Homo sapiens: one gene and its partner. The protein of the gene in region 2 purifies or fractionates together with the protein of the main gene of each other region. This does not show direct contact. Each region holds a gene or a part of one and is shown on either strand. Other genes may lie near its edges.

Region 1 (5,082 bases), on a different chromosome or scaffold from region 2:
ATTCTAGCTGGGGGGGGGTGGAACAAAAAAAATATATATACATATAGAGAGAGAGTATTAAAGTTTTTATGAGGTAGTACATAATATTTACTGTGCATTTTAAGATGCTAAGTTCAAGGCCAGGTACGGTAGCTCACACCTGTAATCCCACCACTTTAGGAGGCTGAGGCAGGTGGATCACCTGAGGTCAGGAGTTTGTGACCAGCCTGGCCAACACAGTGAAACCCTGTCTCTACTAAAAATACAAAAATTAGCCAGGCGTAGTGGTGCGCACCTGTAGTTCCAGCTACCAGGGAGGGTGAGGCAGGAGAATTGCTTGAGCCCGGGAGGCAGAGGTTGCAGCAAGCTGAGATCACGCTGCTGCACTCCAGCCTGGGTGACAGAGCGAGACCCTGTCTCAAAAAAAAACCAAAACAAAATATGCTAACTTAAGAGTTATATAATTTATATGTGCATCAGATTGGTCTTGAGATGCTTCTTCACATGGGAGAGGGAGCTGCAGCTGACCATTTGATTTCCCCGCCCCCCCCACCGAGACAGAGCCTCACTCTTTCCTCCAGGCTGGAGTGCAGTGGCATGATCACAGCTCACTGCAACGTCTGCTTCCCAGGTTCAAGTGATTCTCCTGCCACAGCCTCCAGGGTAGCTGGGATTACAGGCCTGCAACACCACGCCTGGCTAATTTGTGTATTTTTAGTAGAGGTAGGGTTTCACCATGTTGGCCAGGCTGGTTTTGAACTCCTGACCTCAGGTGATCTGCCCTCCTTGGCCTCCCAAAGTGCTGGGATTACAGGCATTAGCCATGGTGCCCAGCCTGTTCATTTGATTTTGAAAAGCTAAGAGAGCTATTATATTCCCAAATATGTTTATCTGCTAAGACTACAGAAAGCTGCCTCCCAAAGGACTTGTTTTTTCAAACTTAATCTGATGGGTCCAAGAGGAATGGAACCAACAAAAGCCATAAACTTACCTTCCCTCTTACCTATTGGATTGGTCTGGTCTTAATGGTCTGGAGTCATTCCTTATTTTTTTTTTAAATGTTCACAAACTGGACTTATCAGTGAGTATTGTCATTAGTAGTAATAATAAATGCTTACACTAACACTGTTGATTCTGTGGTCTCCTTCAGTTCACAACTGGTAATCTCCCACATCTATTCCATTTCTAAGCTTTGAATTTAATTGCCTGAAATTATACTGTACCATAAAATTACCATGAGCCATATTTGCATCGTAGTTTGCTACAGTTTGTACTGGGCATGGTAACTTTTCTTAAACTCTTAAAAACATTAAGAATTGCTGTTTAAGCTTAAACTTCACAGTTAAGGTCTTGAAAGTTAAGAATTTGAATAAGAGAAACAAAAATTCTAGCTGAGGTTTGAACTTTATATCAATAGAAAATACTATTGCCTATTGGAGGTGCTGACACATAAGCATCTAAAGATCAGGAAGACTAGTCTGGACAGGATTCTTGATCCAGAAGTTTGCCTAGACAGCATCTTTCACATCCTCAAAGGTGATCTAGACGTTTTTTTTTTTTCAACTTTAATTATGAAGGGGAAAAAAGGATACTTGGCATCAGGCTGTCCTTTCTTTCCGTAAGCCCATTCTGGTTCAATCTCCAGTCGAGCCTTTTCTCCTTTACTCATAGTCAAGAGAGCTTCATCCCACTAAAGGCAAGAACAAAATAAAAACTAATGGTATTTTGCAAAAAGCACATGCAATACCAGGACAGTCAAGACAAGATTGTATGTTAAAACAAACACAGAATCTATTACTATAGATTTCACTATATTCTAAGATAATGTACTTCAGTGAGTCCCTAAATCTTTGTCTTCCATTTCTTCAATAGAAAAAAAAGGGTATTTTAAGCAGGGCTTTTTTAATGTGAAAAGAACCTTTTGGGGCTCATACCTATAATCCCAGCACTTTGGGAGGCCGAGGTGGGCAGATCACTTAAGGTCAGGAGTTTGAGACCAGCCTAGCTAACATAGTGAAACCCCATCTTCTACTAAAAATAAAAAAATTAGCTGGGTGCGGTGGTGGGTGCCTGTAATCCCAGCTACTCGGGAGGCTGAGGCAGGGGAATCACTTGAACCCAGAAGGTGGAGGTTGCAGTGAGCCAGGATTGAGCCACTGCACTCCAGTCTGGGCAACAGAGTGAGACTCCTTCTCAAACAAACAAACAAAAAACAAAAAAAAAACTTTTTGTAAACTGTAACATGCCATACATTATGAAAACCAGTTAGTTATTAGCACCATCATAAACCTGCAACACTTTTACATCACAGGACAAACGAGTTTATTTTTATTGGAATACACTGGCAAGTACTCACTGTAAAATTGTTTTAAGATTACCAGATTGTAATAGTGGAGTCACGTTGGCACATAAAATACATTTTTTTCTTTTTTTCTTTTGAGATGGAGTTTCGCTCTTGTTGCCCTGGCTGGAGTGCAATAGCGTGATCTTGGCTCACTGCAGCCTCTGCCTCCCGGGTTTAACCGATTCTCCTGCCTCAGCCTCCCTAGTAGTTGGGATTACAGGCATGCCCAGCTAATTTTGGAAATACAATTTTTAAAATGTTACGGCACTAAGATCTTTTGCAAAAGGTAAAACTAACTTTTCAAAGAAACAATAAAAGTCTTCTGGGTTGGCCTCTCCATATTTTCCAAATTTGGATCTTAAAGCTAGTTTCCACAAACAGTTAAATCCACATCACCAAAGGGATAATATTCCTAATATTATATGCTGTATTGAAATGCAACAATCATATAAAGCACAAGGGACAAAGTTAGGGTGGTCACATTTGGAAAATAAGAATATGGTAGACTAGCCGGGCAAGGTGGCTCGTGCCTGTAATCCCAGCACTTTGGGAGGCTGAAGATGAAGAGGGCGATCACTTGAGGTCAGCACTCAAGACCAGCCTGACCAACATGATGAAACCCCATCTCTACTAGGAATGCAAAATTAGGTGTGGTGGCGCATGCCTGTAATCCCAGCTATTCGGGAGGCTGAGGCAGGAGAATCGCTTGAACTCAGGAGACAGAGGTTGCAGTAAGCCGAGATTGCACCATTGTACTCCAGCCTGGACAACAAGAGCAAAACTCCGTCTCAAAAAAAAAGAATACGGTAGACTAGAAGAAATTTACCAGTATGCAAATAAGTTACAGAAATAGAAAAATGGCCCAATTTGATAATATACTTGCTATCAACTTGGTACGGGCAGGTAACAATTTTTTTTTTTTTTTTGAGATGGAGTCTTGCTCTGTTGCCCAGGCTGGAGTGCAGTGGCGTGATCTCAGCTCACTACAACCTCCACCTCCCAGGTTCAAGCAATTCTCCTGCCTCAGCCTCCCAAGTAGCTGGGACTACAGGCAAGTGCCACCATGCCCAGATAATTTTTTGTATTTTTAGTAGAGACGGGTTTCACAGTGTTAGCCAGTATGGTCTCGATCTCCTGACCGACCTTGTGATCCACCCACCTCGGCCTCCCAAATTGCTGCAATTACAGGCATGAGCCACCACGCCTGGCTGGGGCAGGTAACAATTATAAGTTATGCTCAACTAAACCTTTAGTTTTAAGATGTTTTATATTCTGTATATGATTGTCTGAACCATATCTTAGGACCTACTGATTGTACAGAGAGTAATATATTGAAGGTTCCTATAACTGCATTTAAATAGGCATTTCAGTTATTGATGTCTGATGTTCTGAGAATAACAATTTAAAACAAACAATGGGCACAATGGGCAGGCCTTAGCATGAAAACCTGATTCATAGAAGGTGACAGTCTGCCCTACTCTTTTATCTTCTTTTGTACAGTATAATGGTCAGTACGGGTCAAGCCTAACTTCCTCTTTTCTCAAAGTTTCTTTCTGTTATCTCTCACATATAAGTGTAGGTTAAAGCATGCTCATGTTTGAATGATTTTCTGGTATTGCAGCCTATGTTGTATGAGGTGAAAAGGCTGCAGAAACAAACTCTGCTTCTGTGAATACTTCAGTGGGACAGATATTTTACCTTTGCAAATTATATGTAAATGGTACAACAGTTATAAGACATTTTACAGGAACCTTAAATTTAGAGGGCCAAACATTCTGACAAAGACTTACTTTATGAAGAAAAATAATAAAATGGGTACACATGGAAGGGACTAATATTTAAGCCCCTACTGTATTAGGTACTTCAAGTTATGCTCATTTAATCTTCTAAAAACCTTGAGGTAGGCAGTACTGTCCTCATTTTATATGTAGCGAAACTGAGACCGAGATAACTTGTGCAAGATCAGCTAACAATGATTATACCCAATCTGTCAGACTCCAAAGTCTGTTTCCTTTGTATTATATCCCCAAACCTAATTCTTTACAGCACCATACCAGAAGCAGCATATGCCAGAATATCTACTGATTCATTGGCATTCTTTACTTACTCCTCTGATAACTTTGCCTACTCCGACCTTAAAACTTAAAGGCTTGGCATTTTTCTTCTTCTTTGCACCTGTAAAACAGATTTTCCTTATCATTAATGATATACTCTAATTTATTATTAAGAAATTTCCATTGGAAATTATTAAATTCCAGTGGAAAAATATAGTGGTTTGATTTCAGAATTACAATACTATGTATTTTAAAAGAAGGAAAAAATTTACAAAGATCATCCATCAATAAAATTCTGGCTGTAAAAATAATTACATTCTTAACAAAGGGTAGAGGGGTAGGACCTATACTTATATCACAAAACAGCATACTATCCTGCCTTTTCTATTCAAATACTAATGCCTTACTTTGGGACATTAACCAGGTTTAGACTGAGATTCCTTATCTTTTGCTTTCCAAAGAACAAGAGGTCTTTAGCCAGCCAATAATCAGTGAACTGAAGACCTCTTCCAAGTAGATCTTGGGGGAAAGTATGTCTGGATGAAAGTAGGTGACAGTCAGGAAAAAGGTACTGCTAACTACTCATCTGTCTGCCACCCAAGTATTTAGAATCTCTTTAAGCCAAAAACATAAGATTCCATTTAGACTTACTTGTTTGAATATTAGTATCAAAAACAGTCCCATCTTGTAGTGTTCCTGTATACC
Region 2 (5,082 bases):
CCTGTTCTTCAAGCTCTGGTACTGATTCATCACTGTCAGATTCTGTTCCAGACCCTAAGATGAGAAACAACTTTTACTGCTTTATAGTAGAAATTATAAGAGAAGGTACTTCACCACAGCCTGCCCTGGACTAGAGGTGAATGCCTCATGCTAGACCTAAGAATGTTAAATGTAAACCAACTGGCTTGTGTGAAGTCAGCTTGATAGCCCCTAACTTAGTCACTAACTAGCGGGTACACATCTAGTAAAGACCCAGCCCTAACCCCAGAAATGAGGACTAATCACTAGAAATAGCTGAGCAGTTTAATATACTGTAACTGCTTTCTTTCCCTCAAGGTCTTTGTTTCTTGGCACAGGCAAATAATGACCCATATGACTCTAAAATTTTACCCAATAGTCCAATTATCCCTGTAAAGTTCTGTCAGAAGGTGCCCCCAGATACACTTAAGTGAAAAAACCAAAATCACACCGTGGAGGCACAACAGGTTGGGTGGTTTTCCCCTCAACTTTTAAACTGGGTTGGAGGAAGTCAAAAGCAGACACGTACACATATTCAGCCTCATTTTCAAACCATTCACCCCAGCAATGTGATCTAATCAATATAATTAGAAGATTCTCAATGATGATGACCTATATCTCTAGTTTTTCCAAACATAATTCACATAAATTTCTTTCAATTCAAAGGCCAAGCATCAGTAAAGACTACTGAGGAAAAAAAGCATACACCTGCACCATTTTCAGGCTAGGAAAAACAGATTTCTACATTTTTATGAAAAGGGAGTCCCTGGGCAACTGGTCATTACTAAGTCTAATAATGGAAAAATAAATACAAATAGTTCAATTCTCCAATAATTTTACCAAATCTCAGGCCCAGGGACAAGGTTAGTTAGTGATGTGGTAGGGATTAGAGCAAATGAAAAGGTCTGGCAGGTCTTGGTTTTCAATGTCAGATCAATTAGGTAAAATAGATGGCATGGCAGGCTCAGGGTAGTCCGGGCCACATTACACAAAAATGATACACAATGTACTATGTATCTATCTGAAGTAATGAAAACCAAGATTTGGTTTCATATTCCTAGAACTTTTGCATTTAAAATTATCATTCTATGTTCTACATCCAAACCCAAGCAGATTCACTGGAGAAAGCGGCGCATCACAGGGTTAGTATTGGTGGGTAGCGCCCAAGAGGGGTGTGGACGACAGACACACCATGCACACGGCAAACCAAGGCAAATACCCTTGTTGTTCTTCGTAACAGGTTGCTTGGCAGAGGGGGTTGGGACAGGGATTCCAGCAGATTTAGGGGTGGGCATGTTGACGAGGACCGACTGGAAAGGCACTCCCCCAGAGATTGGTTCCGGGGGAATCAGAGGCAGCAGCTCATCCTCATCAGCAGGGGCAAGGGGTTTAGAGGGTGATTCCAACACCAGCCCAGGAGAGGACGGCAGAAATTGCTGTTTAGGAGGCAGAGTGGGAACTGGGGAGGGAGCAAGAGGCAGAGAGACTGGTGGGGAGGGTGCTGCAGAGACAGATGCTGATTCAGGTTTAGGAAGGACCTTCTCAAAGGCAGCTGCTGTTAGAGGGGTGGACGCCTTAGACTCAGGAGGAGCCAAGGGGCCCTTTGGGGAATGAGAAGCATCTTTGCCTTTTGCTGTCTTTGAAGAGTCTTTCTGAACAGGGAGTAGAGGGGCTGGAGCCACTGTGGAAAGGGGTCCTTTAGAACCATTCTTAGCTGAGGGATCTGGGCATATAGGAGGTGAAGTAGCAGAACTCTTTTTGGTCTGTGGACCTTTCCGAGTGGGAGCTGTGATGATTGGCGTGCTTTCTGGAGCTGGGGCAACAAGTACTTCTTTCAGAGCTGTGGGGCCTTTCTTTGCTGGAAGCCCTTTAGATGCTTGAGGAACAGTGGCCCCCATTTTACATGTGACAGAAGCTGGGGAAGTAGGGGAGTCTTTGAGGGAGGAAGGAGTCACAGGTGGGGAAGTGGGAGTCCCTTTGGGGGCTGGAGTTGCTGGGCCCTTTTCGGGGGATGGAGGAGTCACAGCTGGAGGAGTAGGTGCCTCTTTGGGGGAAGGAGAAGTCACAGCTGGTGGAATGAGGAGCTCTTTGGGGGATGGGGCCCCTTTGTAAGTGGAAGGAGTCACTGCTGGGGGACTGGAGGCCTCTTTGGAGGATGGGGTAGCTGGGGCTTCTTTGGGGGTTGGAATTGCTGGGGTCTTTTTAGGGGAGGGAACAGTCATAGCTGGGGGAATGAGGGCCTCTTTGGGGGCTAGAGTTGCTGGGGTCTTTTTAGAGAGAAGAGTCGCTGTTGGGGCAATGGGGTCCCTTCTGGAGGATGGGGTAGCTGGGACCTCTTTGGGGGAAGAAGGAATCACAGCTGGCAGAGTGGGGGCCCCCATGGGGGCTGGAGTTGCTGGGGCCTTTTTGGGAGAGGAAGAAGTGGCAACTTGTTTGGGGGCTGGGGGCTCCTTGGGGGAAGGAGGAGTCACTGCTGGGAGGGTGGGATCCCCTTTGGAGGATGGGGTAGCTGGGCCTCCTTTGGGGGCTGAAGTTGCTGGGGCCTTTTTGAGGGAGACAGGAGTCACTGCTGGGGGAGTGAGATCTCCTTTGGATGGGGTGGCTGCGCCTTCTCTGGTGACTGGAGTTGCTGGAGCCTTTTTGGGGGAGAGAGGAATCACTGCTGGGGAAGTGGGGTCCCCTTTGGGAGATGGGATAGCTGGTCCTCTTTTGGGGGAGGGAGGAGTCATAGCGGGACCTCCTTTGTGGGAGGGGGTTGCAGCTGGGGGAGTGGGGCCCTCTTTGGAGGATGGAGTAGTTGGGCCTCCTTTAGAGGAGGGAGTTGTAGCTGGGAGAGTAGGGGTCCCTTTAGGGGAGGGAGGAGTTACAGCTGGGGGAGTGGGGGCCCCTTTGGGGGGTGGGGTACCTGGGCTTCCTTTTGGGGAGGGAGGAGTTGCAGCTGGAGGAGTGGGGGCCCCTTTGGGGGGTGAGGTAGCTGGGCCTCCTTTTGGAGAGGGAGGAGTTACAACTGCGGGATTGGGGGCCCCTTTGTGGGGTGGGGTAGCTAGACCTCCTTTTAGGGAGGGAGGAGTTGCAGCTGGGGGAGTGGGGGCCCCTTTGGGGGGTGGGGTAGCTGGGCCTCCTTTTGGGGAGGGAGGAGTTGCAGCTGGGGTTGTGGGGGCCCCTTTGGGGGATGGGGTAGCCAGACCTCCTTTTGGGGAGGGAGGAGTTGCAGCTGGGGTTGTGGGGGCCCCTTTGGGGGATGGGGTAGCTAGACCTCCTTTTGGGGAGGGAGGAGTTGCAGCTGGGGTTGTGGGGGCCCCTTTGGGGGATGGGGTAGCTAGACCTCCTTTTGGGGAAGGAGGAGTTGCAGCTGGGGTTGTGGGGGCCCCTTTTGGGGGTGGGGTAGCTAGACCTCCTTTTGGGGAAGGAGGAGTTGCAGCTGGGGTTGTGGGGGCCCCTTTTGGGGGTGGGGTAGCTAGACCTCCTTTTGGGGAGGGAGGAGTTGCAGCTGGGGTTGTGGGTGCCCCTTTGTGGGGTGGGGTAGCTAGACCTCCTTTTGGGGAGGGAGGAGTTGCAGCTGGGGGCATGGGGGCCCCTTTGGGGGATGGGGTAGCTGGGCCTCCTTTTGGGGAGGGAGGAGTCGCAGCTGGGGGAGTGGGGGCCCCCTTGAGGGATGGGGTAGCTGGACCTCCTTTTGGGGAGGGAAGAGTTGCAGCTGGGGTTGTGGGGGCCCCTTTGGGGAGTGGGGTAGCTGCTGGACTTCCTTTGGGGGAGGGAGGAGTTGCAGCTGGGGGTGTGGATGCCCCTTTGGGGAATGGGGTAGCTGCTGGACTTCCTTTGGGGGAGGGAGGAGTCACAGCTGGGGGTGTGGGGGCCCCTTTGGGGGATGGAGTAGCTGGACCTCCTTTGGGGGAGGGAGGAGTTGCAGCTGGGGGTGTGGGGGCCCCTTTGGGGGATGGAGTAGCTGGACCTCCTTTTGGGGAGGGAGGAGTTGCAGCTGGGGGTGTGGGGGCCCATTTCGGGGATGGGGTAGCTGGGCCTCCTTTAGGGGAGGGAGGAGTTGCAGCTGGGGGTGTGGGGGCCCCTTTGGGGGATGGGGAAGCTGGGATTCCTTTAGGGGCTGGAGTTGCTCGGGCCTTTTTGGGGGAGGAAGAAGTCATGGATAGAGCAGGAGCCTGTTTGGGTGCTGGAGTAGCTGGACCCTCTTTGGGGAAGGGCAGATTCACCACTGAAGGAGTGGGGGTCTCTTTGGGGGGTAGTGTTACTCCTTTGGGAGACAGAGGAGTCACAGCTGAGGGAGTAGGGGCCCCTTTGGGGGATGGAGGAGTGGGAGAATGCGTCGTGGCTGGTGAGTCTTTAGAGCCTTGGAAAGAAAGACTATTCTCTGGAAGAAATGAAGCTTCAACTGGAGAAACAGGGGATGAGAGATTTCCAATAGGAGTATCAGGGCCAGCAGAACCCTTCTTGGTTGGAGGTCTTTTAGTCTGAGGAGACACACTAACCCCTAAAGGAGATGGGGAATCAGCTAGGTAAGTCAGAGTTCCTTTGGAAGATGCAGTAGCAGAAGCACCAGAGTCCTCAGTTGGGCACTCTTTGGGAGAGGAAGCAACAGGTGCCAATGCTGAAGTATGAGAAATACCATCAACCTTTTTTGTACCTGGAGGAGTCCCAGCTGGGGGAAGAGAGGGTGAGGGCACAGACTTTGGGATTTCAGGGGCCAGCACTAAGGTAGCCAGAGGAGCACAGGTATTCTGGGGGGATGGAGCCACAGGGCAATTTTCTGAAGCTGTAGGAACCAAGGGTAAAGTAGTAAGAGTACCTTCCTTAACTGGGTGGTTTTTAGGAGCTAAAGAGACAGTTCCTTCTAGAAAAGGGCTGGCTGTAGTTGTATAAGTTGAGGTACCTTTGGCAGTTGTGGGAGCCACCCCGGCAGGGTCAGCACTTTCCAAAGGAAATGCAGCCACTGTTGGGGTAATGAGAGAACTTTTGAGAAGCGGACCAGCAGAGTCTGGGCCTGCATAAGAATCTGTCTTGATTACAGAGGCCGAGGAGTTAACACCCAGAGGGGAGGTCATACTGCTG

The links. The genes of interacting proteins can lie anywhere in the genome.
Region 1: the proteins of NACA (region 2) and FKBP3 purify together in Homo sapiens (affinity purification with mass spectrometry, with the first as the bait; one large-scale study listed by BioGRID). This does not show direct contact.

What each region holds. Positions count from the first base shown.
Region 1 is NC_000014.9:45,116,457-45,121,538, forward strand, and holds part of FKBP3 (peptidyl-prolyl cis-trans isomerase FKBP3), read right to left. Parts: coding exon 5,029-5,082; intron 4,499-5,028; coding exon 4,431-4,498; intron 1,670-4,430; coding exon 1,572-1,669; intron 1-1,571. UniProt on the Homo sapiens protein: FK506- and rapamycin-binding proteins (FKBPs) constitute a family of receptors for the two immunosuppressants which inhibit T-cell proliferation by arresting two distinct cytoplasmic signal transmission pathways. PPIases accelerate the folding of proteins.
Region 2 is NC_000012.12:56,714,634-56,719,715, forward strand, and holds part of NACA (nascent polypeptide-associated complex subunit alpha), read right to left. Parts: coding exon 1,238-5,082; intron 55-1,237; coding exon 1-54. UniProt on the Homo sapiens protein: Cardiac- and muscle-specific transcription factor. May act to regulate the expression of genes involved in the development of myotubes.